Regions from separate parts of the Homo sapiens genome. Here regions 1, 2 and 4 are each linked to region 3. Evidence: fine-mapped expression QTL. A gene starts in region 3. Each other region holds a variant in brackets. All regions are shown on one strand. Distances are from middle to middle. Region 1 overlaps NUAK1 (NUAK family kinase 1). Region 2 overlaps NUAK1 (NUAK family kinase 1). Region 3 holds the start of NUAK1 (NUAK family kinase 1). Region 4 has its middle 89 kb from the start of NUAK1.

What was found. PIP is the estimated chance that this variant, and not a neighbour inherited with it, causes the effect. A credible set is the group of variants that fine-mapping cannot tell apart.
Region 1: its variant is the best candidate, but not a certain one, in a credible set for the expression of NUAK1 in blood mononuclear cells (TOPMed, PIP 0.83).
Region 2: its variant is the best candidate, but not a certain one, in a credible set for the expression of NUAK1 in whole blood (TOPMed, PIP 0.89).
Region 4: its variant is the best candidate, but not a certain one, in a credible set for the expression of NUAK1 in cerebellar hemisphere (GTEx, PIP 0.61).

The regions. Positions count from the first base shown.
Region 1 is chr12:106,111,554-106,119,660 of GRCh38, forward strand. The region is part of intron 1 of NUAK1 (NUAK family kinase 1); the gene reads right to left. Among named protein-coding and RNA genes, the nearest start is that of NUAK1, 23 kb to the right of the region's middle. RefSeq lists enhancers at 3,639-4,215, 4,216-4,792. The variant A/G (reference allele first, on the strand shown) is at 3,484.
Region 2 is chr12:106,069,996-106,078,102 of GRCh38, forward strand. NUAK1 (NUAK family kinase 1) reads right to left here. Exons shown (of 7, transcript NM_014840.3): 5 at 2,729-2,848; 6 at 779-911. Among named protein-coding and RNA genes, the nearest start is that of NUAK1, 65 kb to the right of the region's middle. The variant C/T (reference allele first, on the strand shown) is at 3,306.
Region 3 is chr12:106,134,808-106,142,914 of GRCh38, forward strand. It overlaps NUAK1 (NUAK family kinase 1), which reads right to left and starts at 4,147. Exons shown (of 7, transcript NM_014840.3): 1 at 3,607-4,147. The coding sequence starts at 3,846. RefSeq lists enhancers at 1-158, 2,576-3,077, 5,469-6,088.
Region 4 is chr12:106,046,063-106,054,169 of GRCh38, forward strand. No RefSeq gene overlaps it. Among named protein-coding and RNA genes, the nearest start is that of NUAK1, 89 kb to the right of the region's middle. The variant C/T (reference allele first, on the strand shown) is at 3,426.

The sequences.
Region 1 (8,107 bases), 23 kb before region 3:
CTTGAAGTGCCTCTCAAATAGGAGTCACCCATGCATCTTGAAAAAGTGCAGATTCTGAATCCATAGGTCTGGGTATCCAGCCTGGGATTCTGCATTTCCAGCAAGGTCCCAGGTGATGCCAGCCCCAGGGACCACACTTGGAGTAGCCAGGTCTTAGTGCTTCGTCTTTGACCCTCAACATTTTTAAATCAGTGGCAATATTCTTAATAATAGCAATAATTAATATTTCTTAGGTGTTAATCATGTGCCAGTGGACCTTATCTCATTTAAGCCTACCTACAATCCTATTTTACAGATGAGAACATTGAGGCCAGGAAAGATAAATATTTCCCAAAGTTACATAGCCTGTAAAAAAAAAAAAAAAAAAAGTGGAGCTAGAATTCGAGCCCAGAGGCTGCTGATTTTTAAGGCTATGAATAAAGTTGGGATGAATAGAAAACATCACAGGGAACAGAATCTCCTGTAGGATCCGAAAGGGTCCCTAAAGCCTAGTGAGATGGACCCCCCTCCAAGCAGATGAAGTTTTACAGGGTCATATGTGAGGTCCCAAAAGGAGGGACTGGAGGGCTGAGCAGCAGGGAAGAAACACAGTCATAAATATGGCATTAGCATCACTTAGTGAGAACAAGTTTGCATCCTAATCCCAGCAACACGAGCTGGCAACTTCCCTGCCATTCACAAGGTGTGATCTCATACCCAGGCACGTTCCACGGGAGCTGCAGGGCACGAAGTCAGAGGCAGCTCAGGGGATCTCTCCTTACCTAGGAGCCCAGAGGCCGCCTGCAGCAGGAGCAGGCAGCCAAGCCCGGCTGGAGGCTGTAAAGTGCTCCTGCTCTTGCCTGGGAGATGCACAGAGTGTGGGGCAAGGCACAGCCCCACCGAGGCCACACCGGTCCAAAGCTCCCAGGATCACCATGTGGCTTTCACTCAAAAAGCCTCTGGCCGAGGACAGTCACCACGGTGATGCCACCCATCTTGCAAACAAAGCCCCTAATTAATTAAATGACCCCGGGCTCTTTATGGAGGGGCCTGGCCAACTCAGAACAACACCCCAGCAAGTTGCTGTGATGCAACGGGCCCCATGGGAACCAAGCCAGCTCTGCCTGGGGGCCCATGGGCCTCTTCTTCCCTTCCTCTTTAGCCTGTTGGTTCATGTCCTACATGAATGTATTTCAGAAAGAAATGGATTGGAAGCCAAGAGTTGTATCAACAGGCTCTGAGGCGAGGCACTGAAGCCAGGGAGCATGGTATGTGTAGCTAGGAGCTTTTCCTTCAAAGAGTGGCATCCCCTCACTGGCCCTCATCAGCCCTTTAATGTTGTAAGAGGTTCTGAAAATTTAATCCTCTGTAACTTGGTTCTCAAACCTCTATTTCTCAAAATTCTACATAAAAGAGATGATGATTCCTGTGATGATATTGATTTCTCTCCTGCCATAAAAAATGCATTCTATTTTCAGAACATAAAAAACAAAGCAGATTCGTGCTTGACTGGGCCTGGGCCAGCTCAGGAGGACCTCAGGGCTGGGACATTTTTATCTACAGGGACAGTCATTCCTTGGTCTCTAAGACTCACCCCCACCCCTCTCCCCTTCAAAGACTGAGCTAAGAATGTCATTGCAAGTGGTGATGCCACAAGGGAAGTGGAATTAATGACTAAGAAACCGTGGGCAGATTCACACTCCCTGTTGAGGTTTGTAAACATAAGATACAAACCGTGGCTGACCAGGCAAGAACCAAAGAAATAGCAAAAAGGCCACCGGAAAGTTCGTGCTGAGTGGGCATGCCAAAAGTGAGCCACAAACCCGCCTGAAAAGGACAGTCAGAGACTCTAGAGCACTATCTGTCCAAGGGTGGTGAGCAGATCACCTGCCTCCGATCCCCTGGTTAGGGGGAAAGGGGAAACTGATTGCTAAAATGCAGATTCCTGGGCCCACCCCAGAGCTAGTGAATGAAGGTGGCAGTGTTCAGGGTAGGGGGCAGACCTGGTATCAGCATTCTTTACAGCCTCCCAGGTGATTCTGCTGCACTCTGAGGTTTGAGAGCAGTCACCTTAAAGCAGGGTAAATGTGGCCCTGACGACACCTATTGTTCTGTAGCTTAAACAGGAAGCAGTTATATTACATACTAGATGACTGATGAAAATTAATGAACCTTCCATTTATACACAGAGGAATTAAACACAGGCTTCCTTGAGGGGGCTCAGTGACTTGAATTAATTTACCCCTGGTAAATGGAAAGTTTGCTTCCAATGGGTATCTCCCTAGTCCCAGCCCAAGGAGGGCCTGTGGATGAAGTGATGCCAGGGAATGTGGGTGTGGATGGGTTACTTCACAGTCTACACATAACCCGGAGCACGAAAAAGCCTCTGGTAACACAAGAGACGCTAACACAGACAATATCAGATTCAAAGAAAGACTGAAAATGCCAGGCCATTTAGCTGAGACTGGAGTTGCCAAGCAGCTGTTTATTTTTGGACGTTCACGTCTCTGAAGCCAAATGCAACACCAAATCAGAATTCTAAAGTGCAACTGTTTTTCTTCCAGGTTACAATTGCCCTGGGAAGGGAGAGAAAGGGCTGGGCCAGAGGGCTGAGGTTGCTTACAACTTGGACAGCCTCAACTGGTAGCATCTGATCACTCTGACACTGTTTATAACAAGGCTTGGATAAGCTTAAGGTTGTGCAACTTTTATTTATCAACCTCCAAACCCAGAAGAACCCGAGCCAGTACTGCTAAGAAATCCAGCATCTGCACCTTGGGCTTGTCATCAGTCACAGCAACCCAGCCAAGGCGACTCCTATAAGGAGAGGGACTCGGATAATCACGCCACCGGCTCAGTTTCCTCACCTGCAAATGAGGATGATGATGGTACCAACCTCACAAGGTTGCTGTGGCAACATGGCAGATTGTGTATATGATGGAAGGCAGAGAAGGCAAATAGTACCTACGGCAGAAGCCAAAATGAGGACTGTTATCATGAGTAGATGTTAGAGCTGTAAGGACTTAGAATGCTCTATGCCAATCTCCTCATGTTACAGATGGGGAAACTGAGTCCCAGGGAGGTTAAAGTACATACAGGCCCCAAGTTCACGAAGTTATCAGCAGCACTGGAATTGCAACAAGAGAGTCCTGATTCCCACTCCAGGAGGGATAAACACTCTGAGCAAGGGGTCCTTCCTAATCAAATACTAAGCCACAGTGAGCAGCAGGGCTGAAACTGCCACAAAAAAAATTCAACATTTACATGGGAGGCTGGCTCCAGTCACAGCCAAGTCCCCAGAACTGTTGCATCATTAATAAACCGAGATGGGAGTGGCAGATACTCTTCAGGGTGCTGACAAATCATGACTTGTGCTGCAGCTTGGTGTATTTCACCTCCATCTAATGTCTGTCCTCACATAGCTATGCCAGAGACGCTGTTTTCAGTTCAGTTCTATCCAAACTTTCCTCCAATTTCTGAAGACTGATTTAATATCACCCATGA[A/G]TACGCATACTTGGGAAGTTTTCATCCTATTATTTCTTAATTCATTGCAAACACTGCTATTAAATGATAACTTCAGGCCACTACTGAATCACTAACCTTGGGGACAATGAGCTAGGAACACAAAAACCTAAGAAGCAAAATTAGTTTTCCAAAGGGAAAGGAAATTAGTCAGTTGAGTTTAGCTGATCCAGGTGAGCAGAACCAAAAAAACTTTTCTTCATTTCTTAATATGGTAAAATACAACAAGCTAAAAAGAGGCATGACTTTCTATCTTATTTTATATTCTAATCATGAATGGTTTTATAAATAAGTGAAAGAGAAGATTCTGCAGAAGTTATTTTTATCCAGACAGAATCTCTTCTGTTTAGAAAACTGATTTATAGCAATGTACAAGACCTATCAGATAGGGCGGGAGCAACCGTGCAGGCTGCAGTCCGTCCCCCAAAGCCTCTGGAGAGCACTCAGGAGCCCCCGAGGCCTCTCTCATTATCTCCTCACAAGCATCTTTTTCCTTCCAAGAGAAGCTCTCATTGTCCATTATTCCTAGAGTTAAAAGGCTGGTCCCTCCTCCCCAGCCCGTTGCAAGATCCATCGGGAGGCTTGTCATCTCCCTCATTAGTGCTCCACAAGCCTGCCTGCTGGGATGCTCTTGCTCATTGCAAATGCACAGCCCCAAGAAACCGCAGGCTGAGCTGAGGAGTGTGCTCGGCCCCAGACGAGCATTTCCTGCCGTCCCATCATGGGGATGAGCCTCGCCCAGTACTCAACTCTCAGTTCCTACCCTCAAGGAGGCTGGGGCAGGGGTCTGTGGTCATCTTGGAGACCCTAGTTGTGCCCTGGGTTGGGGAGTGTGCTCATGCCCCTAGACATGGCACCTGCCATTTTCTCTGCCAGGATCCTCCACATCCTGTCCTCGCCATTAACATTTTCGGTTGACCAACTCCTCTGCATCCATCTGCTGCAGACATGGCCCATCCCCTGCAATGACCCCTTTGCAGATATGGGTCCCCTTTTATAACCTCGCTCACCATTGCTCATAAGCTTCATTTGCACGAAAATCATTTCTGTTTTATGCACCACGGCATCTCCAGTACTAAGCATGTGCCTAATGTACAGTATATACAAAAAAGCTGTTGCTAAAATGGAGCCCAAGTATTAAGAAGGACCCTTGACAAACAGAAAACCATAGTGGGACATCTGATCATTCCAGCCAACCTAAACCCCAGCCATCTGCCGCTGAGCCTTCTTTTACTTGCTCACCTTTCAAACGTGGAATCCCTTCTTGTCCCAAAATCACTGAGCCTGAACTTCCTCATCTTCCAAATGGAGACAATAACAGTGCCCACTCCAGAGGGGTTGGGGGTGATTCACAATAAAAGCTAGCAGTCATAATAATTACCAGTTATCAAGCCCTCACTATGTGCCAGGCCCTCAGTACCTTTCTGTTAAGCCTCTCAACCTCTCACTCATTAAATTCTTACAAAAACATTATTATTTCTGCCTTCTCAATGAATATAAACTGAGTCTGAGGGAAGTTAAGTAACGTGCCCTAAGGCACATAAATAAATAGGAGGTCTGGGTCTCCATACGCTGAAAGACCATACTCTTAACCTCTGAAGCACACTGACAAAGCAATCAGCACAGTGCCTGGCACATAGTAGGTGTTACATAAATATGAGCTGAATCAGAACCTCTGGACATGAAGGCCCCATCGAGGCCGCACTGCCTTGTCCCCACCAGAAGTCCTTTTGTTAGCTAATATTTAAACCACTTCCATCTTCAAAAGCACATCTATCAATCAGTGTTCCTGCTGCTTTCTGTGGGACCAGGTGGGCAAAAGGCAGAATTGTATGGGAGGGGCTGGGAGGCATGTCCCTAAAACGATGTGAGAATGAGTCGATTCCACAGCAAGCAATTGTGGAAAATCTGTTCTGGATAAGGCATTGATCCAGTCCTAGAGAACATGAACTAGACCTACCCTTCAAGTTGCCTACCATCCTACTGGAAAGGCCAGTAGACACAGGGGCTCCTCCCTGCCCAGCCCCTCCCTATTCACTCTCCTTTTGGGAGGAACACCCTGACTTCACTGTGAGGACTATTCCTACCCCCAAGATGCCTTTTGAAAGAGACCAAGATACTTCACCCTCTCCCATGCCAACAGGCAGGCACACAACTCTAGAGCTAGCCCTGGAGATGCTCTTTCTAAGGTTTCAAGAACCATCCCAGCAAAGTGTTCTTTTGGGAGCCCACAGACACATGATGTGTATGCACACAGATGGGGCCTCTTGAGAAGTCATTCCATGCATGGCTCCCCCATTTCTATCCCTGTGTCTTTCTCACACTCCTAAATAACTATCAGTTCAAACCAGAAAACCGAGTCTCACTTTGCTCAGCTATTCATTTTCCCATTTCCAAAAAAAGCCAAGGCAGTGTTGCTGCTGCTTCTCTCTCACACTGCGTGCCTTACACTCAGTCATCTCCTCCATAAAATGGGCCTACTTCACTTGACCGGTACTAGTTGAAATGCAGTCTTCAGGACCCACATAGATGTCATTTTTATAATAACTTCGTCAAACACCACAAAAATACAATATCAAATTATTGTGGAGCTTCATCCCATTTCAGGGGAGGGATTCAGTAAGGATAACATTGACCTACTTTGCACAAAGGTGCAGGAAGTCCAGCTTCATTCTCTGCCAAATAATGTTCACACCTACAAACTATTTACCTGCCACTGTCCATGCTACACAATGACAGTCAGTATATAGCCTAACAAAAGGGAAGGTCATTCATTGTCAATGCCCCAGACATAGCAAGCAGAGACTGCAAGCCAGGAACTGCTGTGTTCCCCTCTGTGTCCTCAATATCTAGGAAAGGATCTGGCTCTATAGTAGTAGACTTCCAATAAATATTTGTTGAGCTTAATTTTATAAAAAATGATGACTATCGTAAGTCTTAATTTGTATAAGAATTATTCCTTTCTTACCTATCCACCCACTACCTGGCCCAATATCTACAAGTTGCTGAAGTCGGGCAGTCTACCCAGATTCCACTCTGGTCCAAGTTGCCTCTGTACTTGTGGCTAAGACCACAAATCCATGGAGGCAATACCATGCTGTATGAATGGCCTCCCACCTATAGATACAATGTCATCCCACTTCATTTTATTGCCCCCACCACCACCCCATGAGATAAGCTAGAAATTTTGCAGGAGAGGAAAACAGAAACCAACAAGAACTCCCCAAGTTTCCACAGGTCACAAAGGCCCCACCCAAGTTTCAACCCAGGTACTTGGATCCAGTGGCCAATGCTGCTTCCACTGGACCACGCCTGTTTCCACATTTGTCAAATCTATGGAAATATGTGGTAAGGAAGAAAACACTCTTAGCCCTGGCATTGTGATGCTTCCTTTCTCTGGAATGTAAAGCCTTGGGGGAAACTAGCTCAGATAGCAGATTGCTCAAATGTCGTGGAAGGTCTGGTCGGGGAGCTAATCAGAACAATTTGAATGTGCGGCTAAGCAAGGACACTCCTTCCTGGATCAAGCGTTGCTTTGATGGCAATACTTTATAAGAACCATTCCCTTACAACAAAACTGTCAAATCCAGCAACCACAGGCCAGAAACATCCCTGCGGAACCCCGCCAAGCTGCTTTCTGATGTACTGTACACACAAATACCAATATTCCCCAGATGTTCTCCATGTAAAACATTTGGTTTGAGACACTGCTCTTCTTTCCCAAAAACTCTTACATTTGTTTAATGGACTCATACAGTTCAGCTAAAATATCCTGGAGCAGACATCTGAAGCCAGCCCGGCTCTAATGTGAGCATCCCATCTGCAGAAAAGACGAACAAGTAAATAAGACCATCCTTCCCAAGATTTATGCTCCTTGCATCTTTAAGCAGGTCATAAAATGTAAGCTATGTAAGGATAATAATGCAAGTTGCTTTCAAGTGTATTTCTGAGTCCATCTCAGTATTAATCTAAGACTGATGTTCCAACAGAGACTGGGTCTGGCATGCTAATAAGGGGACTAAATTCTACTTCTTACTCCCTCAAAAAAGAAATCTAAAAATCTGTCACTTGAGCAACATAGATGACTGAGATAAAGGTAGGTTTTTCCTGGTTTTAATTATCCAAATATAGCAATAGCTTCTTTATGCCAAAACCACTATCTCTTAACCTGTAGTGTAAAACACAGGTAAGAGGTAGCAAAATAGAAAATACACTTGACCTTGAGTCAAGAGACCCAGCTCAGCCACATCCTAACTGAGTGACCCCGACCAGCCCTATTTACTCCAAGGTGGCTCATCCTGTTACCCAGAAAACACGACTTCATGCTTGGAGCGCCATTCAGCCCTGAAGACTTTGGGGAATGGAAATAAGCCCTTAGAAATGCCACTCAAAGAAATGCCATGGATTCCATGCACGGCGCCCCTGCAGATCGTCACCCATAGTTTTCCTACTAACACAATTACGAGGAAAGCTTACTCACAGAAAATCTGTAGGGAAGCTGGAAAAATGGAACTAGAAAGCTGCTAGACACAGCCTCACTGACAGAAGCAAGACATGACAACTCACTTTCCCCTTAATCTTTAACTTTTCTGTATCTGGCGAGTTT
Region 2 (8,107 bases), 65 kb before region 3:
ATGGACATGGCACTGGCACTCCAGCCTGGGCAACAGAGCGAGACACTCTCTCAAGAAAAATTTTAAAAAAAGAAAGAAAGCTCGGCAACTTTTTATTCCTCCTTCTTAGAACCCCAAGCTGCCACTGTGGGGTGGCACCTCAGAGAGCACTGAGGAAGGTCCACCATTCAGCCCCAGCAGCAGCCCCAACTGCCATCTGCTTACAACTGTAGGAGAGGAAGGCCATAAGAGCACTTCCCAACCCACAGGGGTGAAAGAGATGATTTCATGGTTGTGTAAGCCACTGAGTTTGTTTTGTAGGGGCAGATGGGGTAGAGTTGTTACACAGAAATCAATAATGAGACAGAACCCATGAGCCATGCCCCATGCCAGTGGCACAGTAGTGAGAGACAGAGCAGTGGCCACCCTCACAGTATTTACATTCTCAGGTGAGTGGTTTCTATGTCTACTCAGACTGGGAGAGACCTCATCTAATATCTTTTCCAACGTTTTTATTTATGGTGGAGAATCTGAATCCAAAGAGATTAAGTGACTTGTCCAGATCCACAAAGCAAGCAAACAGGACTCCTAGAAGGTGTGCTCTGAAAATTTCCTTTGGGAAGGTTTGGGGAAAGCAGCCTAATAAGCCAGTTTTGCCAAGGATGACACTTCTGGGAAGAAGAAAGAGGAAAACCAGGTGACTCCAGACAGACATACTAAAACAAAAGCAGAAAATAAGAGTTGGGTAAGCAGATCTCTCTCCCCTCCACCTCTGACCCTCCCTCCACAGGGCACGCACCTGAGGGCTGTGTTGGCTCCCGGTACTCTCCGCTGCTGATTTGCCGAATGAGGTTTTTGTGATCGAAACCATCGAAGGGCATTGTTCCATAAACAAGAGTGTAAAGCAACACACCCAGGGCCCAGCTGTCCACCTGGAGCAGAGAGACAGCACATATAGGAGAGCTGGGAAACAGATCCCAAGATGCCTTCCAAACCATTAGCATCATAGCCTGTGAGCAGCCACCCCCAGCAGCCCCAGGAACTGAATTTAGCACCTGGAAGATAGGTTCCTAGTGCAGCCTGACACCTGACAGCAATGCAGCTGGGACCTGCTACAGAGCCTGACCTTTCCATTCTGAACAGAGGCCAGTGGTCCCAACTAGTAAAGAACTTTCTTAAACAGATTATCTTCTTTAATCCTCACTACAATTTTGTGAAGCAGTTAGAGCCAGGACTATTTTCAGCCCCATTTAAAAGATGAGAATACTGAGGCACGAAGAACCTAAATGGTTTCTCCAGAGGCCCTGCCCCAGTGACGGAGGTAAAACTGGGATGCGGGGCTCTTCATTCCTAATCCAGGAATCAATTCCTTCCTGCACTTTCTTCAAATGAATCAGGAATTACAAACTGAAATCTTAACAGATATACACAAAGCAAGAAAGAATTGGGGTTATGACATAGAGTGTTGGGGATGGAGACAAACTGTACAGTACATTCACCCGTCTTAGGCAGACAGCCTCTCCTTAGCTAATTGCTGCCATGTAGTAACATGGGCCCAGCACTGCTCGATTCTTTGGTTTTACAAGAGAAGTCAGAAACCAAACTTTTACATGAAATCTCCCAATTATTACATGTTTGTTCAATTTTTTTAATAAAAACTAAGGTGGCCAAATAAAGGAGTTTGCTGACCAGATCACAGACTGCTAGCCTGGAACCTCAAAAACAGGTCATCGAAGACCAAAATATTCATTATCTATGAGAAATTTCGTGTCGAGTTTCTACAAGTTTGTAAATTGAGTTCTATGCTCCTCCCTCACATTCTTATTTTAGAAAGACTTTCTCTTCATTGCAGTTAATAGATGGTCTTGGCATCCTTCTCTTTACCCTTCAGCCCTGCCCCCAAACACTCTCAAACACATAAATATTTGAAAGAAAACATTTCAACACACTGAGCAGCTGCTATTTAAAGGATACTGAGTGGATGAACTCTGAAAAGAGAACCATCTTTCAAAAAGAGAATCATCACTCACAACTCACTCATTTTCAAAATAAAATTTCCATATACCCATATCTTACAGTGGCCCTTGAAAGCGCTAGCATGTAGGGAAATGTATTTCTCATGAATTAGAAGATGTCATTAAAATGTATTTCCTTAGTCAGATATGCATGCTGCCAAAAATATATACAAAAAAGATATTTACCCCAGAGTGAGGCAATTTTTTGTTTGTTTGTTTTGTCTGTTTTGATATAATAGGGAAAAAACTAAATGTTCACATCTAGACATTACTAAATAAATTTTGGTATATTCATTGATAAAATGTCATTAAAATCATGTTTTTAATAATGAATTTGGAAATTGCCACAAGATAGTTTTCATAGTAAAGGGCAAGATATACATACGTGTGTCACATACATATGTATATCTTGCCTTTTATTAACTTGATCTCAATTATTTTTGAAATGCAGAGATCTACATTGGGAAAAGTTTAAAAGTCACTAGAGTTTTAAGTGATTATCTTTTCTAGGGGGATGGCAGGTACCTTTATTTTCTCCTTTAGGCTTTTCTGGGTTTCCCAAATTTCCTCCCAGGAGTATACATTAACTGCTTTTATAATCGTATAAGGAAACGTTTTCCTTGCTGGCTTTTTTAGGCTCTGTTTTTTTAAGCATTTCTCGAATCCAGTTTTTGCCCTTCCTCCCTCTTCTCCCTCCCCTCCCCTGCCCCATACACATTGGGAAAGCTGCTCACCTCTGGCCCTCGGTAAGGTCTCCCATTGACAATCTCAGGAGATGCATAGAGTGGACTCCCACAAAACGTTTGTAAGAACTTATCCTTCTGGTACAGGTTGGAAAGCCCAAAGTCAGCAATCTACAAAGAGAAGCAAGACCCAGGGAGACTTGTTAGCATTCCAGATTATGTCTGTGTTGGATCAGTTCACACCACACAGCACACAGAGTGGATGAAGGGCACCTGGGTGGGTCTGCTGGCTGGATCGCCATTTTCTCTCCAGCCCTGAGTCTTCATAAAGGACCACTCAGCCCAAGCAGGTCAGTGTTTCCTAGCTGCAGTCCTTGGCATCCATCACAAGTTCTACCAAATCTGCAGACTACAAGCTCTGCAACTTACTTAGAAATTACTCTTTAAATGGATGCTCTATTTAAACTTTAATTTAGACTTGCTTTGAGAAATAACATTCACAAAATCACTGGCTTGATGTTTCTGATGAACATTAAAGTGTGTAACTATTAATTTAAGAATTCTCCCTCTGTGGTCTACCCAATTATGCTGCATCTGCGGTGGTGTGCATATCACACTGCGGAAAAAC[C/T]CTGACCTACACAACTGGTGATACCACCTCTGTATCCACTCACACCCTGATCAGAACTGTATTTTGCCTGTCTTGTGACTCAAGATGAAATGGACTAATTGACTCACAGCATTGGGTTTTGAGTCATCATATTTCAGTCCCAACTCTGCTCCTATCTGTCACTTAATGACCTTGAGCCTCAGTTTACCCACCAGAAAATGGGAATCCATGATCCCTTCCCTGTTCTAGCTCACAGGATCATCATGAGAATAATAAGAAAAAGAAATCAATCGAGATGAGACCTTGGCCAGGCGGATCACTTGAGGTCAAGAATTCGAGACCAGCCTGGCCAACATGGAAAAACCCCGTCTCTACTAAAAATACAAAAATTAGCCGGGCGTGGTGGTGCATGCCTGTAATCTCAGCTACTCGGGAGGCTGAGGCATGAGAATCACTTAAACCTGAGAGGCGGAGATTGCAGTGAGCCAAAATCACACCACTGCACTCCAGCCTGGGCGACAAAGCGAGATTCAATCTCAAAAAAAAAAATAAGATGACACCGTGAGTGTAACAGTGGTTCATAACCTTCAAGTTTGATGCAAATGTTTCATCTAGCCTTGTTTTCATTGTACTCCACACACCTTGGAGTCATTCTCTTCTCCTTTGGTTTCTTGAAGTGTTTTATGTGTTATCATTTATGACAGCACTTTTACATATATATGTATATGTATATGTACACATATGTACAAATATACACATATACACATATATACATACATATACATATATATATTTGCTTTCCCTACCAGACTCTGAGTTTCCTGAGGCAGTTGGCAGGTTCCACATCCTCCCCTTATCTTTGTATCATCCACTGCTTAGCACCTGCCCACACCCAAGAAACACTTGTCACTGGTACAGGCATTATATTTTGAAAAGCACAAGATAATTAATATATAATGCAAAATAATAATAATAATAATAAACTTAGTTGCCACTTTTTGAACAACTTCCAATTATCAGGTACTGCTCCAAACACTTTATTTAATCTAATCTTAACAAAAACCTGGTTTACACAGCAATGTGAATGCCTTTCATGCCTAAAAAAGGTTAAAATAGTCAGTTTTATGTTATGTCCACTTTACCACACATTTTTTGAAAAACTCATTTAACAGATGAGGAAATTGAGGTTTAAGGAGTTTGAGGTTACTCATTTAAGGAGATGAGTAACTAATATGCAGCAATATAAACCCCCGTGTCTCTAAAGCTTCAAACCACAGTGCCACCCTGTCCCTGGGTCACCTGTATATTTCACTCCACTCTAAGCCAGCCTTGCAAGCTGAGCCCCTGTAGGTTTCCATCATTCTCCAAGCTGATTTCCATTTGAGGCTTGGAAATGAGCTGCATGATTCACATGCCCAGAGAGAGCCCAGCCTGAATACCACCGAGGCTCTGTGGTGGTCACAGCCCCTAGAAGCAGCCTATTTTGTAAAAGTCATCCCTGAATGAATGGAATGTCATTGAAAGCAGCTGGTGTACAACCAGCCTCAGAAAATGCATTCTCCGGGCTCAGATTGCACTTCATTGCCCTGAATTCCACTTTCTTATCAAGGCCCCTGACTTGCTTGCAGGAAGTTGGTTGGAAGCTTTATGAAGTGTGCCCTGTCAATCAGAAGAGGCATGGAATGGCTACGCACAGGAAAATGCATTCTCTTCCCGCCTGGCAGTGCCTGGGGCACCATATGAGCTTCCAAATACACGTGCGTGTGAGAGGCACCCGCTGCACATGCACACACTCACACCAGGAGTTTTCATTCCAAGTCTGGGCAGCCTCATTTGCTCTGTAGCCGTTCTGGAGAAGTGTGTTTATGTTATGGCCCACTCCTATCCTCACAGACTGATGTTTATCAGCCTCTCCCAGTAAAACTGTCATTGCCACTGACACAAGATTAATAGAAATCTAGATTAGCCTGTGTTCTTGGCACTTCGATGGGAAAGCAGTATTAATCAACACACACACACACACACACACACACACACACAGAGAGAGAGAGAGAGCGTTCTCAGATCTTGAGCCATTCAAACTTAGGCTTCGGCTCTAAGATTTAATGCCATACGGAACTTATATCAACTATTGATAAGAGGGGAAATGGCCACTGGTTATGAAACCTCTCTGAAGCTTCAGTTTTCTCGTCTGTAAAATAGCGTTAGGAAGAGTGTCTATCCCTACTGTGTCATGGTGGAGATTAAATGACATAAAGTATGTAAAGTCCTTACAACAGTAATTGGCCCAGAGTTGGAGCTCAATATATATTTGCTTCCCAACTTTAAATCCAGGGAGTTAATTACCTTCGTTATACTAGAAGCAGAGTTTATCCCAATGCCAGGGACTCTTGACAGTGAAGAAATAGAGAAATTTCAGATGCCAAATAATAATGGAATTAAATAACTTTGAATAATAAAATGAAAAATTCATTCCTTTCTGGATTCACCTTCAGTTCTTTGGATTAAGTCAAGAAGAAGGTCTCAGTTGGGCACTGGTGTGTCTTCAGTATCTCTTTAGCATTTATCAAAGAGACCAGGCCTCCGGCCTAGCCTGCAGCAGCAACCAACATCAAGCTGGAACTTCAGAATGCTATTTGGTTTCCATTATACTTAGTTTTGAGCTTATCTTCTATTCATGGTAAGTGATACTGGTTTTCCACTTAAGGTAATTATTTAGGGCTTCTTTTTCAAATAGACAGAACTTTAAAAAGTGACCTGAACTCAACAAAAATATTAAGTAAAATAGCAGTGAGGATACTGCGGAAAGGCAAAAATCCATGAAAAGGATGACAAACTGAAATTTGAGAAATACTGATTTTAAACATCATAAAACAAAATCTCAGAATTACTTTGACCTGAAAGAGCCCTAACAGATGTTAATCCTGCCCCTCGCTCTAAAAGTGAAGCAGCTGAAGGTTCCAGGGCATAAGAAGTTTTGCTAAAGGTTGCAAAGAACAGCAGCAAGTACATGAAGGAGCACATGGGTCTTCCCAAGCCGTACAGTTTCTCCAACAGAACATCAGCTGCAAATGGAGAGGATGACTTTCCAGCAAGGAGGCGACTGGGCTGAAGAATTTTGCTGACACACTAGCAGGCAAGCTTTGGAGAAAGGTACCTACCTAGCTGGCATTTTTGCTTGTTGTTTTGACTGCTCCCCTGCCCCATACTGATTCAGAACCACCTTCTGCCCCTGCCCTGTGCTATTCAGTTCAGCCTCAATTCTCGAAAGGAGCCCCGGAACTCAAGGCTCGGGTCCTTAATATTTGGAGTTTTTATTGTTATCAAGCCTTTCCAGAGGTGTTCCCCACTGCATGAAAATTGGGGTTAGAAAGATAAATGAGGAAGTAATTATTCATTCACATTTCAAAAGGATTAACCTCACTACAACACAGATGAACCCTGAAGATGTTATGCTAAGTGAAATAAGCCAGACACAAAAGGACATATATGATTCCATGTACATGAGGTCCCTAGAGTAGTCGAATTCAGAGATGGAAAATAGAATGGAGGTTGCCAGTGGCTGGGAGGAGGGGGAAAGGGGAGTTACTATTCAGTGGGGACAGCGTTTCAGCTGGGGAAGGTGAAAACATTCTAGAGATGGATGATGGTAATGCCTACACAACAATATGAGTATACTTAATGCCACTGAACTGTGTACCTAAAACTGGTAAGTTTGATGTTACATATATTTTACCACCATAAAAGGATTAACTCCAGAACACTGTTTATAATGAGCTCATCTGGTGAAAACTGAAGTGTCACCTTGCTGACATTAACTGATAGGAAAGGATGCTGATGGCAATGATAATAATTAGTGATGGTCTAACAGTCATCTGCAGTGTTTAAGAGGAAGTGTGGTGCACTCCACAGATCAGACATTTTGGGTCCAGGAGAACCTGGGGCTAATCATGGCTTTGTCGTTACTAGGTGATGGGTGGGACCTGCCAAGTCACTCAAGTTCCTCATCTGCAAAATGGCACTCAGACTAGAACCCACCTCACATAGGTAAGAAGAGTAGAGAATACGCATGTAAAGCTCCTGGAATAGTCCTGGGACCAGCTGACGCTATAAATTACAGCCATTATGGTAAGGCTGATGGTTTGGCCGACTTAACAATCGTTTGTTAGACCAGGCAAACAGGGAACCAAAAGCATTAAAGCCACTGCCCATTAAAGAGCCAGGAGATCTTACCACTCATTTATAATACAGTCACGTTCAGAGTGAGAAGCTGCATCATAGGATGGGAAAAGGAAAGGATTCAGGGTTTGAGCACTTGAGTTCAAATCTCAGCCTTGCCTCGTACCAGCATCTAACCCAAGGCGCTTTAGATAATCCCACCCCACTCCAATCTGGCCCACGGACCAGCAGCATTAGCATCACCTCGGAACATTTCAGAAACTGAGACACTCAGGCCCTGCCCCAGATCCACTAAAACTGCATTTTCACAAGAGCCCCAGTGTATAATACGCACTTGCACATTAGCCATTCTAAGCCTGCATTTCTTCATCTGTAAAGTGGGGTTGATGATAATAATGTCACCTACCTGGAAGTGCTGGTACCAAACCAAATAAACTGATTCATGGAAGTGCTTACACCATGCCTACCTAGCACACAGTAGGCCTTCAGTAAATGTTAGCTATGACTACTTTATTTAACCTCTCTGAGTCTCAGATTCCTTTGTTGGAAAATGGAATTGCAATACCGCCAATCACTTGGTGCTGTGAAAATCAAAGCCAGATTAAACAAGAAAAGAATTAAAATAGGCCAGATGTGGTGGCTCA
Region 3 (8,107 bases):
AATTCAAGACTTGAGAAATGTGTTCAGATCCTATCTGAATCTGGCTAATTATCTCATCTTCCTATGGACACACCTCCCTAATTAATTTGGTATTTATTTTATTACTCTGAAAAGTTGATTATTTCTTCTATCTCTCTCTGCATGATACAATGCATTGTCTCTCTGATGGTCTTAAAATCTAATGAAATCCTAAAATGAGATGAGAAAAAAAATCTGCTAAAAGGAGGAACTAAATTGATTAATGTCCCCTTTTGAGGTTTTATATAGATCACTGTATTCAGTTCTCACAAGTCTATGAAGTTGGTACTCTTAGTAGCTCATTTTACCGATGAAGAAGCTGAGGTTTCAAAAAGTCACATAGCTTGCCAAAAGACACAAAGCTAGTAGGGGATAGATCAAGGATTTGAATGTAAGCCAGGGCTCTTTGCCTTTCTGCAAGAGTGCCTCATTTTTGAGCTTGTTCATCTCTGGAACAAGCCACTCTGAGTCCTGGTCTCACGGACATGCTTTAGCAGAGGCTGCAAGACTGCAGGAGAGTGCCTGGACGACACACAGGGTCGCACCAGCTGACTCCAAGCATCTCATTCTGCACTTCTCTTCAGAACTGCCTTTCGCGGCACATAGAAAATGATGCTGTGTTGTGTTTTGTTTTATTCAGAAGGTCCTTCCAGGTATGCAATTAAAAACCATCACATCCTCATTTTTTAGAAACTTCTCTCCTCTCTGAGAAGAACCCCTGCTTTCAACAGGGATGTTGATTTCACAGCATTTCATACAACCCCATACTCGGCACCTGTCTTGGGCCACTCACATTAGTAAAACACGTTAGAACCACTGCTCCTCTTGAGAGATGCTGTAAAAGGCACTGGTGCAAATGAAAATAAAACATCACTTCAAAATTCTACCCAAAGATCAAAAGGCTAAATTAAGATAGTGCCCTTTCAGTTCTCCTCAACTGCACCTTCAAAGCATGTTGTGAATGTTTAGCACATCGCTGGTACCAGAAGAAAACTCCAAGTTCATATTTTAGATGAAAATGTCTTACTGCTCTTAACAGGTTCTGAGTCACCAGGCACTGTATGGGCAAGAACAACTCGTTGACCAATTTTTTGTTTGTTTGGTGTTATTTTCTGTTCAGCCAGTCACAGGAAATTTTCCACTTGACAATTCCTGTTTCTCACTAAAGTTCTTAACACCATCTGTGAGCAGTGTGCTCAGCAGGGGGAGGACGGGGGGCCAAGGAGGACTTTCCTTCCCCAAACCTCAGTTTTCCCATCTGTTTTATGCAAGGTTTTTACCCAGGGATCTGGCTAACATTCTGTAAGCTCAGCTATCAAGGAGAAAGCAGCCCCATGAATAAACGAAGCATTTTAGAGACTGTCAGTTTCTGGGCGTGGGTCTGCTGCCAGATTTAAAATCTTTACATAATTTTGGGGTAAAACAAGAGATTTAGCTGAAATTAATAGCACAATGGGAAAATGAACTAGGGCTGAACAATAACACAGCGGGACTTCAGATTTGCGGCTGGTAAAGAAGCCTCTCTCGTTCTCAGGGCGCCCCCTCGTGGCCGCTTGACTAAATCCTGACGGAATGTTCAGTTTCTGCAAATACAGAGAAAGACATCCCCCAAAAGAGAAAGGCGGACTCCTGCCTACTGATGCAAATCCCTTTCACTCTAACCTAGTCTGTGGATCAGACAGCTCAAGAACGCCTGACAGGAAGTCCCACTGACGCTCAGAAAGGCGTCTGCCATAAGACAAGGGTTCGTTCGTTAGAAAGGTCTGAGGTAGTGCCCCAGCATTTAGACTTTGGGGTCCCTTCACAGACCCTAGACACACCCTTACCACTTCAACAACCCCTCATAGCCTCACATTCTCAACCTGCAGCTCGAACTGCGTCTGTTTTTCATTATTCTGCTTCCCACCTTCCCAGTGCGATTCTTCAGCAGCTATTAAGACAACATGAGCAGGGATCTAAGCTTAGTTTTTGCTTATTCAACATCCAGCCTGGGGAATATCACCTCAGAAGAAAAGCATGAATGAAGTGCACGTTTCCCAGCCTCTTCTTCCACAAACCTGAAATTGCCTTCATCAGAGGCCACCCTTACAACCCTCCCCTTTAACAATTTCATCCTACGAAAATGGCACCTGCCCAGAGTGAATTCTCAACTACTTGCTTGCTGTAGAATTTATTACAGAGCCAGCTTTAAAAAGAAATGTACGCCATCTCAAATTTCCAATTAATTGATAACAGATTTTTTTTTAAAATAACGTTATGGGACGAAGTTATATAGACCCAAACATCAAATCTGAGAAATGGGTTGGGAGGGCGTTATCCGGGTATCCAGATATTTGAGAATTTGGGGACTGAACTTTGCTGACTGGCACCCCCATGTTTTTTTCACAGAACTGTTCCTGCCGAAATGCAAAAGAAACATGTCAATACTAAGCTGCTATTTTATTTGACAGCTCATTTTCCTTTTTCCCTGCAGTCATTTGTTGTTTATAAGCAAACCTGAGCCTCCAAAACACCCCCAAAAGTGCACACAAGGAGTCCCATAATCAGTTTCTGACTTTGGCCCTAAATCGATTAGAATACATCTGATCTGCTTCAAATCAAAGAACCATGTTAATTTTCTGCCACACACCACACAAAATCTTTCTGCAACAGTCAGTCACTTTGAACCCAACTCTCTAGCCACAAGCAGTGTGGATTTCAAGGGCCTGTTCTGCAGAAGTGAAAATAACAACAAACCAAGGCTGGGACAAGGCAGACAGACCCCAAGGCACTCAAAGCACTCCTTGGAGCTGTGCAAATGGTGCCAGGACCCTGGCAGGGTGTCAGCTGTCACAAGAGCAGCGGGGCCAGACCCCTTCAGCGGTTTGGTAGCCCTGCAACCAGGAGCTGAAACACAACTGAGCCTGCTGCAACTAAGCACAGCTATCTCTGTAGCTACCCATGCCCTGGACATTTCGGTCCTCCCAAAGCCATGATGCAAACTGTTAGAATCCTCAGGCTTGCAGTAGTCTTTATTTTTGCTCCCTAACCTTGTCTCAAAAACAGGCAAGAGTCGCCCTCCCTTGCAGTCACAGCAGTATCAGGGCGATGCAGAGTCTGAGTGGGAGGATGCAGAGCAAGGAGCTGCGGGCAGATGGGTGGAAGGGGGTAGGGACACCTACAAAACACCGGACTTGAGGGGCTAGCTCCTAGCTGGGAATGTGGTTCTTTGGAGAGTTGTGGAAATAAGACGTTTCGGGGCATGGTCTAAATGAGTGCCTGCGAGGGAGAGAGACCCCGGCCGTCCCAACGCTGCAAAGTGTTTGCAAATCTAAAACATTCCTTTGCTGCTAGGATTAAATTTTTAAAAACAAACCAAAAAATAAAATAAAATATGTGCAGACAGGATGTAACAAGTGTTTCAGGACAGAGACACGCCTGAGTCACGGGGTGCTGGAGAAAGAGTGAGGAGTCTGTCTCGGGGCTTCCCAATGAGCCCCCTCTCTGTCAAGAGAGCCCCAGGGCGCACAGACCCCCGCCTCGCACGCCCTCAGTCCCCGGCCGCGTCCACCCAGCGCCCCCCGCACCCTCCAGGATTGCCCCACTCACCACTCGGCCAGAAAACCTCTCGGTGGCCCGCTTGACTTTGCCGTAGGTGCCTTTGCCCAGGGTCTCCTGCAGCTCGTAGCGGTGCTTCAAGTTGTGCTTGTGGTGATGCCGCTTCACCCCGTGCGGCTTCCTGGGCTCCAGGGCTGCAGTCGCCCCCGCCACCGCCTCTCGGGGAGAGCCCGGCGCCCCCAGCCCCAAGTCGGGGCGGTCCCCCGCCACAGGCGCGGCGGCCCCTTCCATGTCCAAGCGCGGGGCGAGCCGGGCTACAGAGGGCAAGACCGGGCACAGCGCTGGGATGTCGGGGTCCCCACCGAGGGAAGCCGCTGTACGCTCAAGGTCGCCCCCGCAGCATCAGGGAGGCGGCCCGATACCGCTCGGACTGCGGCTCGGTCACTGGCGGCGGCGGGGACTGCACATCTGGCGCCCGCGGCGCGCACGGTCCGCGCACCGCCCCCCGGCCGCGGCGAGCTGTGGAGCGTCGGGCGAGGTGGCGGCGGTGGCAGGGGAGGCGGTGGTGTTTGCAGGAGGGAGGGGAGAGGGTGGCTCGCAGCGCAGGAGGGGGAGTGTTATGTGGGGCGCCGCGCCCCCCAACCCCTCCCCGGGAGGACGCGCAGACGGGGCGGGGGCGGCGCTCGCGCGGCCCCAGGGGAGGGGGAGCGAGGGGCGGTGCAGCCAGGGCTTCCCCCACCTCCCTGCAGCCACCCGGGGCCGGGGCCGCCGTGAGCTGGGAGGGGGATGGGAGCGTGTCGCGACTCGCCCTTTGTGCGGCGCGGCGTAGGCCACGGCGGCGGCGGCGGCGGCGGCCAGGAGTGCTTTGTCCTCGCTGGGCCGGAAGGGACCGGGAAATTCCAAGCCGGGCGCCCCCTCCCCGGGCGCTCTCGGGCTCGCCAGTCGCAGCTACCGCGGGCCCTCCGCCGCCTCGGGCTCCGGGGCCGGTCGCTCGGCCTGGATTCCTGCTGGCGCCGGGGCGGCGGTTGCGGCTGGCCGAGCCCCGGGGCCGGGGAAGAAAGAGCGCCGCGAGCCGGGGGCCGCCGGGACCTGCTCGCGATACGGCCGGGGCCGCCGCGGGCCTGGGCGCCCCTTCATTTTCTTGTAGGTGTCGCCGCAGCCTGGCGGCCGGAGCTGGGGGAGGGGGCAGGGAGGCCTGGTGTTCGGTTACAGGCGGTGACTCACGGACCTTGCCCGCCCGAGGCTGGCACCCCGCGGGGCAGAGCTGCGCCCGCCTGGGGCAACTCCGAGTCCAGGAGAACCCCAAGAGCGGCGCTTTGGCCCCGGCCCCCGCGCCCTCTCCGAAGAAAGGAGAGTCAGGGACGGAGGGAGGCCGGGAGGCTGAACCCCGGGCCCGCCGTCGAACCGCCGGCCCTCCGACACCATCTGGACCCCGGCGGGGACAGCCGCCTGGAAGGGGAGGAAGGCCAGGGACGTGGAAGAGATGGGGCTCTAAAGGCGCCGGGACGGAGCTGGCTCCCCAGAGGCGCCCACCCTGCCAGCGAAGGCCGCCATCGGAGGTGGGCAAACCAGGGACCTGGGGTGGACCAGGACCCCGGGCCTGCTGAGCAACCCGTTTGCTGAGCAGGAGGCGATTTGCAGGCCTCTTGCCTCCTTAGGCCTTGGGAGATTTCCTTTCACTGAAAGGGCCAGATCCTGGCGATGGTGACAGGAACGGTACCCCGCACGGTAAGGGTCAGGCAGGAAGGGCCTCCCACCGCGGCGTGGCTGCCGCCGTTCTAAGAAGAGACCATGAAAAATAAGGAAGAAGGCTAGAGAAAAAGAGGTCTTAGGGAAATTTTTTTTTTTAACAAGTGGTGCAATGTACCAGACTAGGGTGGGAAGAGTGAAGGCTGAAGAAGGTCTGGTGTTCTGCAGATCGCATGGCGGTTCTTTTCCACCAGTGGACCTCACTGGGGCCTCCTCTGCAGCTCTCAGGTGCAGCCCTTCCTCTACATTCCCGCCGCCTTCATTCCTGTCTACCCCTGGTCACCTTACCCCGGACTCCAGCAACAGCCCGCTCTCCCCAACCCTCCCCGGGAGCCTCCTCACTGCTGCCAGAGTAATGGCCTGAAACACTGCCCTCATCCTCCACACGTGTCTCTGCTGTACTCTGACGCGTGATATTCTTACCTGTCCAAACTTTCCTTCTACTGATATTTCACACAAACTTCCCTGCCCCTTCTTCCCTTCCCCAGGAGCAATGACAGAACACAGACACAAAGGCGCATCATGCCTATTCAATTCCTATTCTGTCCACCGCATTTGCAGGGCCTCCCTGCCACCCACCCCCATCCTGAAACTGTTCTGCTTCTATACAGTTTGTGGACGTTGTGCCTATAGATCCCACAGTCAGGATGAGTGGCATGCAGGTTGAGTCCTGGCTTCCCAGAGGATTGGCTGTGTGGCCTTGGTCAAATGACATAACCTCTCAGAGCTTCGGTTTTCTCTTAAGATATGGATTTAGCAGATCTATTGTAGAGATAAACACATTGTGTCTACAGTAGTATTTTAAAATATTTTCTACTTCTTCCCCTCCCCTGCGATGTGGTAGAAATCCACTACCCCATCCTCTTGAAGTTAGATGAGACCATCGGACTTGCTTAGGCCAATGGAATGAGAGCAGAAGTGATTGTGTTGCTTTCACTTGGAACCTTTAGGAGCCAGTGAGCAAATCCCCATGTCTTCTTTTTCCTATCTTGACAATCATGGTGGTACAAAGTTGGAGCCTCCCCAAGCCAGCCTGAGTCTCTGTGTAAAGATGGCAGAAAATCCCAGCCAATCTGCATTGGAAAAGTAGTGTCAGCAAATATTAAACTTTATTTATGTTAAGTCAGTGGGATTTGTTAAAGCAGCATAACCTGGCTTATTCTGGCTGATAGTGTTACTCCCAGATATGTGGGACTTCATCAGTATCTATTGAATCAACAGCATCATCTACCATAGGCTGGTACTGTTTTATGACAGTAAACCCTCCTCTGTAAAGTAGCTGTTTACAATCCCTATTTTCAATTGAAGAAACCGTATCAGAAAGGTTAAGTAATTTCCCAGAGGTTACACAGTTTGTAAATGGCAGGACCAGGATTTAAACCCTACCTGTCCAGTTCCAAAGCTCCCCCTTCTCCTTTCATATATGCCATGCTCCGTCTCCTTAAATGGGAAGGATGAAAAACACCCAGTACAATGCCTAGCACACAGTCATGCCCAGGCACTGGGAGTTCCTCTCCAGACTGAATTCCTACCACGTTTATAATTGGAACCACACTTCAGCACAATGCTATCAGGCATTGTGTGTGAATGTTTTCACATCGATAAAGCATTTTCTCCAACAAGAGCCCAGGCTCCTTGATTAAGAGCTTCAGATCTAGAGGCAGAGTGACTAGGTTCAAATCCCTGTTCCACCTCTTATGATCATCTTGGATAATTGTTTTCCCCCTCTATGCCTCAGTTCTCTAATCTGCAAAGTGGCGATGGTAACTTTCATGTGCGTCTGTGTGAAGAGACCACCAAACAGGCTTTGTGTGAGCAATAAAGCTTTTAATCACCTGGGTGCAGGCGGGCTGAGTCCAAAAAGAGAGTCAGCAAAGGGAGATAGGGGTGGGGCCGTTTTATAAGATTTGGGTAGGTAAAGGAAAATTACAGTCAAAGAAAGGGGGGTTGTTCTCTGGCGGGCAGGGGTGGGGGTCGTGAGGTGCTCAGTGGGGGAGCTTTTTGAGCCAGGATGAGCCAGGAAGAGCCAGGAAAAGGACTTTCACAAGGTAATGTCATCACTTAAGGCAAGGGCCGGCCATTTTCACTTCTTTTGTGGTGGAATGTCATCAGTTAAGGCAGGGCAGGGCATTTTCACTTCTTTTCTGATTCTTCAGTTACTTCAGGCCATCTGGGCGTATACGTGCAAGTCACAGGGGATGCGATGGCTTGGCTTGGGCACAGAGGCCTGACAGTAACAATGTATGTGGTATTAGCAATTACGCCAATAACACATCCCACAGGGTTGGTATGAGGATTAAGGGCTAGACTATATCCACTCAATAAATCGTGGATATTAATACGATACTTTTCATCTTCCATAGCTCCTACTAGAATTTGGAGCCTTTTTTTTTTTGCGATGGAATTTCACTCTTGTCACCCAGGCTGGAGTGCAATGGCACGATCTTGGCTCACTGCAACCTCCGCCTCCCTAGTTCAAGCAATTCCCCTGCCTCAGCCTCCCAAGTACCTGGAATTACAGGCATGTGCCACCACGCCCAGCTAATTTTTTTGTATTTTCAATAGAGACGAGGTTTCACCATGTCGGTCAGGCTGGTCTCAAACTCCTGACCACAGGTGACCCACCTGCCTAGGCCTCCCAAAGTGCTGGGATTACAGGAATGAGCCACCGTGCCTGGCCTGGGGCAATTTTAAGCAGTTTAATCATACTGCTTGGTTAGACTCTGATTTCTGGTTTTGTTCTTGGATACAGGACAGATGTAGTAACATTGGCACTTGAAAGTGTGACATCCACACTATCCTA
Region 4 (8,107 bases), 89 kb before region 3:
TGCTACCTGTAAAATATCAGTGATATTCACAACGATATCCTCCTCGGAGAGTGATGTGAACACTAAGTGAGATCATGTGTGTCAGATGCCTAGCACAGAGTAGGTGATCAAGAGTTCACATGCTTAATTCCTAAACTCTACTGCATAGGCCTACATGTGTGCAAAACTAGTGAATATTTATGTATCGAATATTTATTTTCTATATTTGAATATTGAATGTATATCTATATTGAGTATACGTATATATTGCATATTTATCATAAATAACGCCTAAATGAACCAATTCTTGTCAGTGCTCATAAGTCACCTTCACAGATGGTTTTTATTGGAGGTCATCCCAGGGAACTTTTGAATTGGGGTTTCCTCTCTGTGGAGCCTGAGCTTGGCTTGTTTCCATTTAGCCTGGTCCTCACACCAGTGACAGTAACTAAACCACTTTTAATCAGTGGCCTATGACTGGACCTGCTCCAGATATCTCAAATCAGGAAATAGATCACAAACGAGGCCTTCTTTTTGTTCTTTCTGTCACTGGCCTGGCTCAGAGCTGGGAGGATAATGGGGCAGGAGAAGAGAGCTGTGTTAAGGATGCCAGATAGGGCTCAGAGTACTGAGTGCACTGGGTGGAGCCCCTAACCCACAGACTGGTCTCTATGATTAGCGTCCATTGTACCCAGGCAGAGTCCCAGGTGGGTGGGATTCCATCTCATTTCCTTTGCAATGCTTGGTGGAGAAGGACAGTAAAGGGGGCAAGGAGAGGCAAGACAGAAGATGAGGTTCCCCAGTGGTGGTCTCATCAGCAGAGCCTCAACATCCCTTGTCTAAATTTCAAGTTGAGAGAGAGTAGGCCATGCTACACAATATATACTAACAAAAGGGGACCAACTCAGAACAGATGTCTGAAAGCATATTTCACTAAATAGGGAAAAATAATTAAAGTTCTGCCATGCCCAAGCCTCAAAAGCAAACGGGTCAGAGCTGTTTGGCCAGCTACTGCTCCCATTCAACCTGTCTCCCCAGAGTTCTCTGAACCACGCACCAGATAGAATCCACCTGCCTCTTCTTTCCTCAGAAAGGATCTGAAACTTGACTGTCACTGCAAGAAGAGGCCACAGGATGTGCATATAAAGTAGGTGACCTGAGTTCAAGTTTGAGCTCTGCCCTGTACAAGCTCAGGATCTTGGGAAAGGAGCTTCACCTTCCTGGCAGCCTTGGTTTCCTTATCTATTAAGTGGGGATAATAGTAGTTCCCTGCTGGGTTGTTATGTGGATTAAATGAGATGGTACAGGATGATTTGCCATTTTCTGTGAGTCATTTTTTGGCTGCACAGCAGTTGAACCTTCTGGGCCTGTGACCCAGCCAGACACACCTGCTCAGAGTTTTAAATCTCAAAGTAATGATCCACAGACGCAGGGACAAGGCAGGATCCATTTAGGCAATACTGTATTCACCAGAACCATCCCATTTTCTAGAGCAGTGGTACCGCTAGCAATGCCCAATGGCCAAAGGCCAGAGCTGGCTGTGGTAGCAAAGCCGCCACAATGCCAGGGGACAGCCAGGGTAGCTGTGGTCCACCCAACACCCTGGCTCTATGGTCCAATTTTGGCTGAGTTCTGGCCACCTTGCTTCCTCTATATTCCCAACTATTTCCCAAGCCTTGTTTTCCAGCCTTCTTGGAGTTTCTGGGAGATGCCTTATATTCTTTCATAAATTTTCTTTCTGGCTTAGATTAGCCAAAGACCCTTTCTATTCCTTACAACTCAGATCCCGGTCTGGTATAGCAGTCAAAGGACTTGGCATGGTGTCTGGTCCGCAGCAAATGTTCAGTGTATGCTAATTTCCCTGTGTGTCAGTGATGTCTCCTTCCTATTTCTGTTCCCTCATAACCATAAACATAATCATTATTATTGGTTTCTGATTTATCTTTCTGGCTTTTTTGTGTGTGTTAGTTTTCTATTTGTATTAGTTTGTATTGGGGCTGCCATAACAAAGTACCACAAATTTAGGGGCTTACAAACAAAAACCATTCATTATATCAGGGTTCTGTAGCTCAGATGTCTGGCATGGCATGGCTGAACTCTGCTCAGGATCTAACAAGGCTGAAAAGGTGCCTGCAGAGCTGCATTCTCTTCTAGAGGCTCTAGGCTGAAGCCCCTTCCAAGCTCACTCGGGTTGCTGAAAGAATTCAGCTCCTTCCAGCTGTAGGACTGAGGTTCCCATTTCCTTGACCTGGGACCCCCTCCATCTTCAAGCCAGCAACAGAGCTTTGAATCCTTCCCATTCTTAAAATCTCTCTGACTTTCCCTTCTGCATTCCCCTTCTGCAATTAAGGGCTTGTGTGATTACACTGAGCCTACCTGGCTAATCCAGGATAATGTCCCTATCTTAAGTCAACTCATTGCTAACCTAGATTTCCTCTGCAAAGTCCCTTTTGCCATGGAAGTAACTAACATGCAATGCCCCCAGAATTAGGGCTGGAGTCTTGTGGGGGCTGTGAGCCTGCCCACTACACTCTCCTTCCCAAAGTCACCTGGAAAATGCCTCCATTTTCTCTTCTTGCTAAAACTGTTGGTATCACCTGGACAATGTTTTCAAGTGATATCTGTGGCAATGTGCTGGAGGAAGCAGAGAAGAGACCAAGCAGTCAGGGACTCGGCTCCAAAAATATCTAAAGAGCTTCAGTGAAAGATGAAGAGAGCGGAAACCAGGCAGAGAAAGCAGAAGGGGCACCGAGAGTGATGAGGAAACCAACTAGAGATGGAGGGAGGGAAAGGAGAGGGGAGGCAGGAAGCAAAGCTGGCTCTTCCCAGCCTTCCATCCAGGCATCCCGTGCCAGAAGGCAAAATGCAAAACCAACAACGAGGAGAGGCAGATTTGCTAAGTGAGAAGAAAGGGATTTTTACTTGAACACGTTGAATTTGAGAGGCCTGAAGAACAAAGTGAAGATGTGTCTCCATGTCCAGGGAGGAGGCAGAGGAAACTTGAGAAAACTCAAGCTAAAATAAAATAAAAAATATATAAAATAAAATTTTAATAGTGAAAGCAAAGGAGAGAGAGGGAGGAGAAACTCAGAGTGGAAAGGACAGGCAGGGGAGGAAGGACGAGAAGCAGTGTCTCAGACATACTGACAGCGCCGCACAGGAGTCACAGCTCCCGGCTCTGGCTGCTCACAACACGTGATTTCAAATTCCCATCTGCTGCAGAAGGCTTTTATGCTTTCATGTGAGTCTGCGGCCCAGCACAGGCCTGCAGATATAAAGGCTGCTTAGGGATGTTCTGGAACTCCAGATGGCACCCTGGGATTCCTGCCTACATGCCTTATGCTTCCTGGGCCCAAGAAAGATGCTGCCACCTGAATTCTCCCCCGTTCCTGCCCACCATCTCGAAATGACTCGCACAGCAGCCTCTCCCTCTCTCCCTCTCCTTT[C/T]CCCTTTCTGCTCCTTAGGTCTCTGCCCCAGGATATAATGGAAAGACCAAGGATTCTGGAATCTGACCTCTGGAACCTAGGTCAGTATCTTCATCAGCTGTGTACCCTTGAGCAAGTTACTTAGCGTCTCTGAGGCTGATTGTTCACATATAGAATGGAATCAGCAACACCTATCTCAATAGGCCTGTTGTGGGTTAAATGCCTAGCACAGTGCCTGGCAAGAAGGAGAAGCCCAATCGATGTCTGTCCCCATCCTCCAGCCTGGCACACAGGCCTGTGGGTCTGTTTTCAGAGGCAAACAGGTCCAGCCAAAACCCCCAGGGCCAGGATGACTACGCTGAGCACAGCTTTATGGTCGGGGAACTGAGTTGCCATCTGTCTTTGCTACTGATTGATACAATCTTTGGCCCGTTATCACCATGGCCTCACTGAGCCCTGATTTCCTCATCTATAATATAGGGACAGTGACAGCATGCACCTCCACTGAGGATCTCTTATTTGCCCTGTATTAGTCTGTTCTCATGCTGCTAATAAGGACATACCCATGACTGTTTAATTTATAAAGGAAGGAGGTTTAATTGACTCACAGTTCCATATGGCCGGAGAGGTCTCACAATCATGGCAGAAGGCAAGGAGGAGTAAGGTCTCATCTCACATGGTGGCAGGCAAGAAGAGAGCGTATGCAGGGGAACTCCCCTTTATAAAACCATCAGCTCAGCTCTCGTGAGACTTATTCACTATCACCAGAACATCATGGGGAAAACCTGTCCCCATTATTCAATTACCTTCCACCAAGTTCCTCCCAGACATGTGAGAACTATGGGAGCTACAATTCAAGATGAGATTTGGGTGGAGATACAGCCAAACCCTATCATGCCCCTTCAGGTGCATTCTCCACCTGCTCTGAGCCTTGGAAGCTGACCTGTGTCAACTACAGGAAGGGATATCCACCCTCTGACTTCAGCAGAGGTTCAGCAGTCATTTCCCAGGCTCCCTCCCTGCAAGTTCACCTCTGGCTGGCTGCTTTCCCTGGTGACAGCTCCTGTCAAGGAAGCCCTCTTGATAGCTCTCTCCTTCTAGAGTCCAGCAACTGCTCCCTTCCTCACACTGTCATTACTATCTGTGTAGGGAAAAACTCTCTCAAACTTTGCTTTTCTTCTGCTTTCACACCACCACAACAATCATCAACACAGAAGACTTTTGTAACAAAGATGTGGAGATTCGTCCCCACACACCAAGCAGCAGACACCAGTTGGGCATCCTCCAATTCAATTCCAACACTATCTACCTGGAGATAGGGTCAGTCCCCAAGACTCCCTTTCTCTCCTGCACCAAGACACCAGTCACAAGTCTGGACTTCTAGAAGTTCTGACCAAGTGGCTTCAAGTTGGGGTTCCCACGACCCCTGTTTTGGGTTTAATTAATTTGTTAAGGCAGCCAGAACTCAGGGAAATAACTTAAGTTGACTGGTTTATTATAAAGGATATTGCAAAGGATACAGATGAAGAGATACTAGGGTGAGGAATGAGGGGAAGGGGTGCAGAGTTTCCATGCTTTCTCTTGCTTGGAACATGTGCAAGTTCCTGGGTGCACCACCCTCCAGGAACTTCCACATGTTCAGGTATCCAGAAGCTGTTCTTCTGTTGCAAGTGACAAGAACCCAAATCAAACTAATTCAGCCCAAAAAAGGAGAATAACTCTCATCACTGTGAAGTCTCAGGTTAGTGTTTGCTTTGGGGGCAACCTGGCTCAGAAGATCAAATGATGCTACAATACGCATTTCACTTACTCTCTTAGTTCTGTGGTGCTCTTTCTTGGCTTCATTCTCAGGCCATCTCTGTTATCACTTGGTGATAAAAATGGCTACCAGTAGTATCTCTAGGTTTACATCATCCTCATGGTGATTCCAGAAAAAAAAAAAAGAAAGAAAGAGAAGATGATGACAACAATCATCACAAATCCCTCCCCGTCAACATCCATACTTGATCACCCAAATGGCATTGATTGGTCGTGTTTGGGCTTTAGAATGAACACTGAACCAATTATTAGGTCTAGAAGAAAAAAAAAATTGAACTAGTCAGAGTGAGTGAAGACCTTGTCCCTGTAGTGTGAAAGGTAATTACAGCCAGGTGAGGTCCCACTGAATCACATTACCTTGGGAGAAACAGAATCCCAAAAGAAGTGATACAGAACTGACACAAAGCAGATTTCCATATAGGACCATATAGATTTCCACTATAGGACCATTAGGGGCACAGACTATATAGTCAATAAATGCTATCAGAATGGAAACTAAGAGTTCTGTGAGATTAATACTTTCTCCTCTCTCTGCCCTCTCACTCCCATCTCTTTCTCCCTCTCCCCCGAGTCTCTCTGTTTCACATATATATTCACATACACACACAAAGAAGTGGTTTCAAATAGTCCCTGGGGCACTAACAGAGGAAAATGGCCATAAGGATGAATTCCAGTATTACTCACAGGATAAATTCTCTTGTTACATCATGAGGAAAAGAAAAACCATTAACTGAGGCATAAACTTCCTAATTGTGAAGAGCATGATTGGCAGGCGGTGAATACCTCATCGTTCTCAAATAGACCATAAGCTTCAGGAAGCCTTTAATAATAACCTATTATACTGACATGAATAAGGTTGAGATGGAGCAGGCTATGCTGAAGTGGTAGAGGCTGAAAGAGAGAGAGAGAAAAAAAGATTGTTCTTGATGTCCCTTTGTATCTGACCCTTATCCAGATACTGAAATTGAACCACCATAATGAGCCAAGTATCATATTCCAAAAAATCTGCCAGACATTCCTGCCGTTTCAGCTTTATTGAATTACTATGTAGTGCAGCCTTAGAAATATAAATCATGGAGAAGCAGGAAATGCATTTATTTCATTAACCCATCTAGACTTCGTTGAATGTCTGCTAGTGCCTCTCTTAAAAATAGCCTTAGAGTCTTACCCCGCAAATATGTTTGAATTCTGTTTACCAGCAGCAGTAAACCTGACGATAGACTATTGTTTAATTCCTATTTCTCCTCAAAAGCACTTTCACTCCCATTTAGTTGGCTGCATGTTGTACAGAGCTTTAAAGAAGAACATCCTTGTGTCCTTTGTCATTTCTTGGTCTTCCACGAAGTAGCTGGCCAGACTTGCTTTTTTGCTCCCATTCCAATCAACCAGCCACAAAGAGGAAGAAATAGTTCCTGAGGTTGGCAACAGTTATCTGGATGCATGCAAAAAGCCCAAATCACCTTGGACACCAAACTTGGTGCTCTGTGAAGGAGTTGCACAGGAAAATGCTGAACTGATAGAACCAGTAATGAAGACAGAGATGATTTGGTCATAGCAAGCAGCTTTGCAAGCTTAGATGGCAGAGCAGAATTAGGACCAGAAGCTCTGGAGTTAGATGGCCTGGGTTCAAATTCAGACCATAGCACTTATCAGCTGGGCAACTTGAGCCAGTGAATTTCCTTCTTCCAATTTCCATTTCATCAACAGTACTAATGTTTACCTCCAAGGGCTATTGAGAGGTGGCTTCAAGAAAAACAAATGAGTGGGCAGGGGGGACCTGTAACCTACAAAGCATCACTCAACTTTGTTATTATTATGACACTCAGACCAAAGAAGACAAGGGACATATATGTCTCAGCTTGAGACAAAATTTCAGAGTTTATCCTTGCCACATTTCCTGTGAGAATTCCTTTGCTTTCTCATCCTGTCCCATTTCCCAAGGGGCCTATGTTGTTCTCCATGATTACTCTTAATTAACACTTAATAAGTCTCTCCTGAAACATTAATAGCTGGCCAAGCCTTAGCTGACAATGGCTTAATGTATGATACCTCCCAGGGATGTTGGCATTTATTTTAATTTGAAAGGAGACCCTAACTTCTCTCCTAACCACCCAGAAACTCCACTAGGGTCCAGGGAGACATCCCTAAAATGTCACCATCTGGGCCTTTCCCACATGATCATATTGAAAGTTTGGGAGAGAGTAAAAGAATGAAGAGGAAGAAAGCAAAGGAAAACCCACTGGGAGCTACATTTCCCTCCCAAAACAACAACAAAAACCTAGTGCCTGGTACACAGTAGGTTTTCCATTAATAATCTTAAATGGAGGAATAAATGATAGAGTTAATGAACCAGCAAACAAATAAATGAAGAACTGCCCCATAATTTCTCCATTCACTCACAAGGAAGAAAATAAATAAAAGCTAACTTTGGCAGGGCACCTCTGAGAAGTCACCAACTATAACAGCAAACTCCCTGCCTAATCCTTCTTACTGGAATTGTAGCACTAAGAATAGCCAGTTTGCTTTTTACTGACTGGGTTCTTACCTGCCTTCTTTCTGGAATGTGGTCCAAAAAAGGGAAGAATGGGATCTTGATCATGATGAAGGGCACAGGCTATGAAGTCTATCATATTTGGATTTTAGACCCAGTTCTGCTAACATCTATTTGTAATTGGGCAAAAGACTTAATCTCAACTTTTGCTTCTACCCATGAAGGAGAAACTCCTATGGGATACACCCTGACCCACTGAAAACACAATCTACAAAGAGAACAAAATATATTCAAGAAGTGTTTTCAGACATTAAACAACAAGTAACACAGGACCATAATCACCAATAAAAGCAAAAACTAAAGTAAACCAGGCAATTGCACCATCTTAACCTGG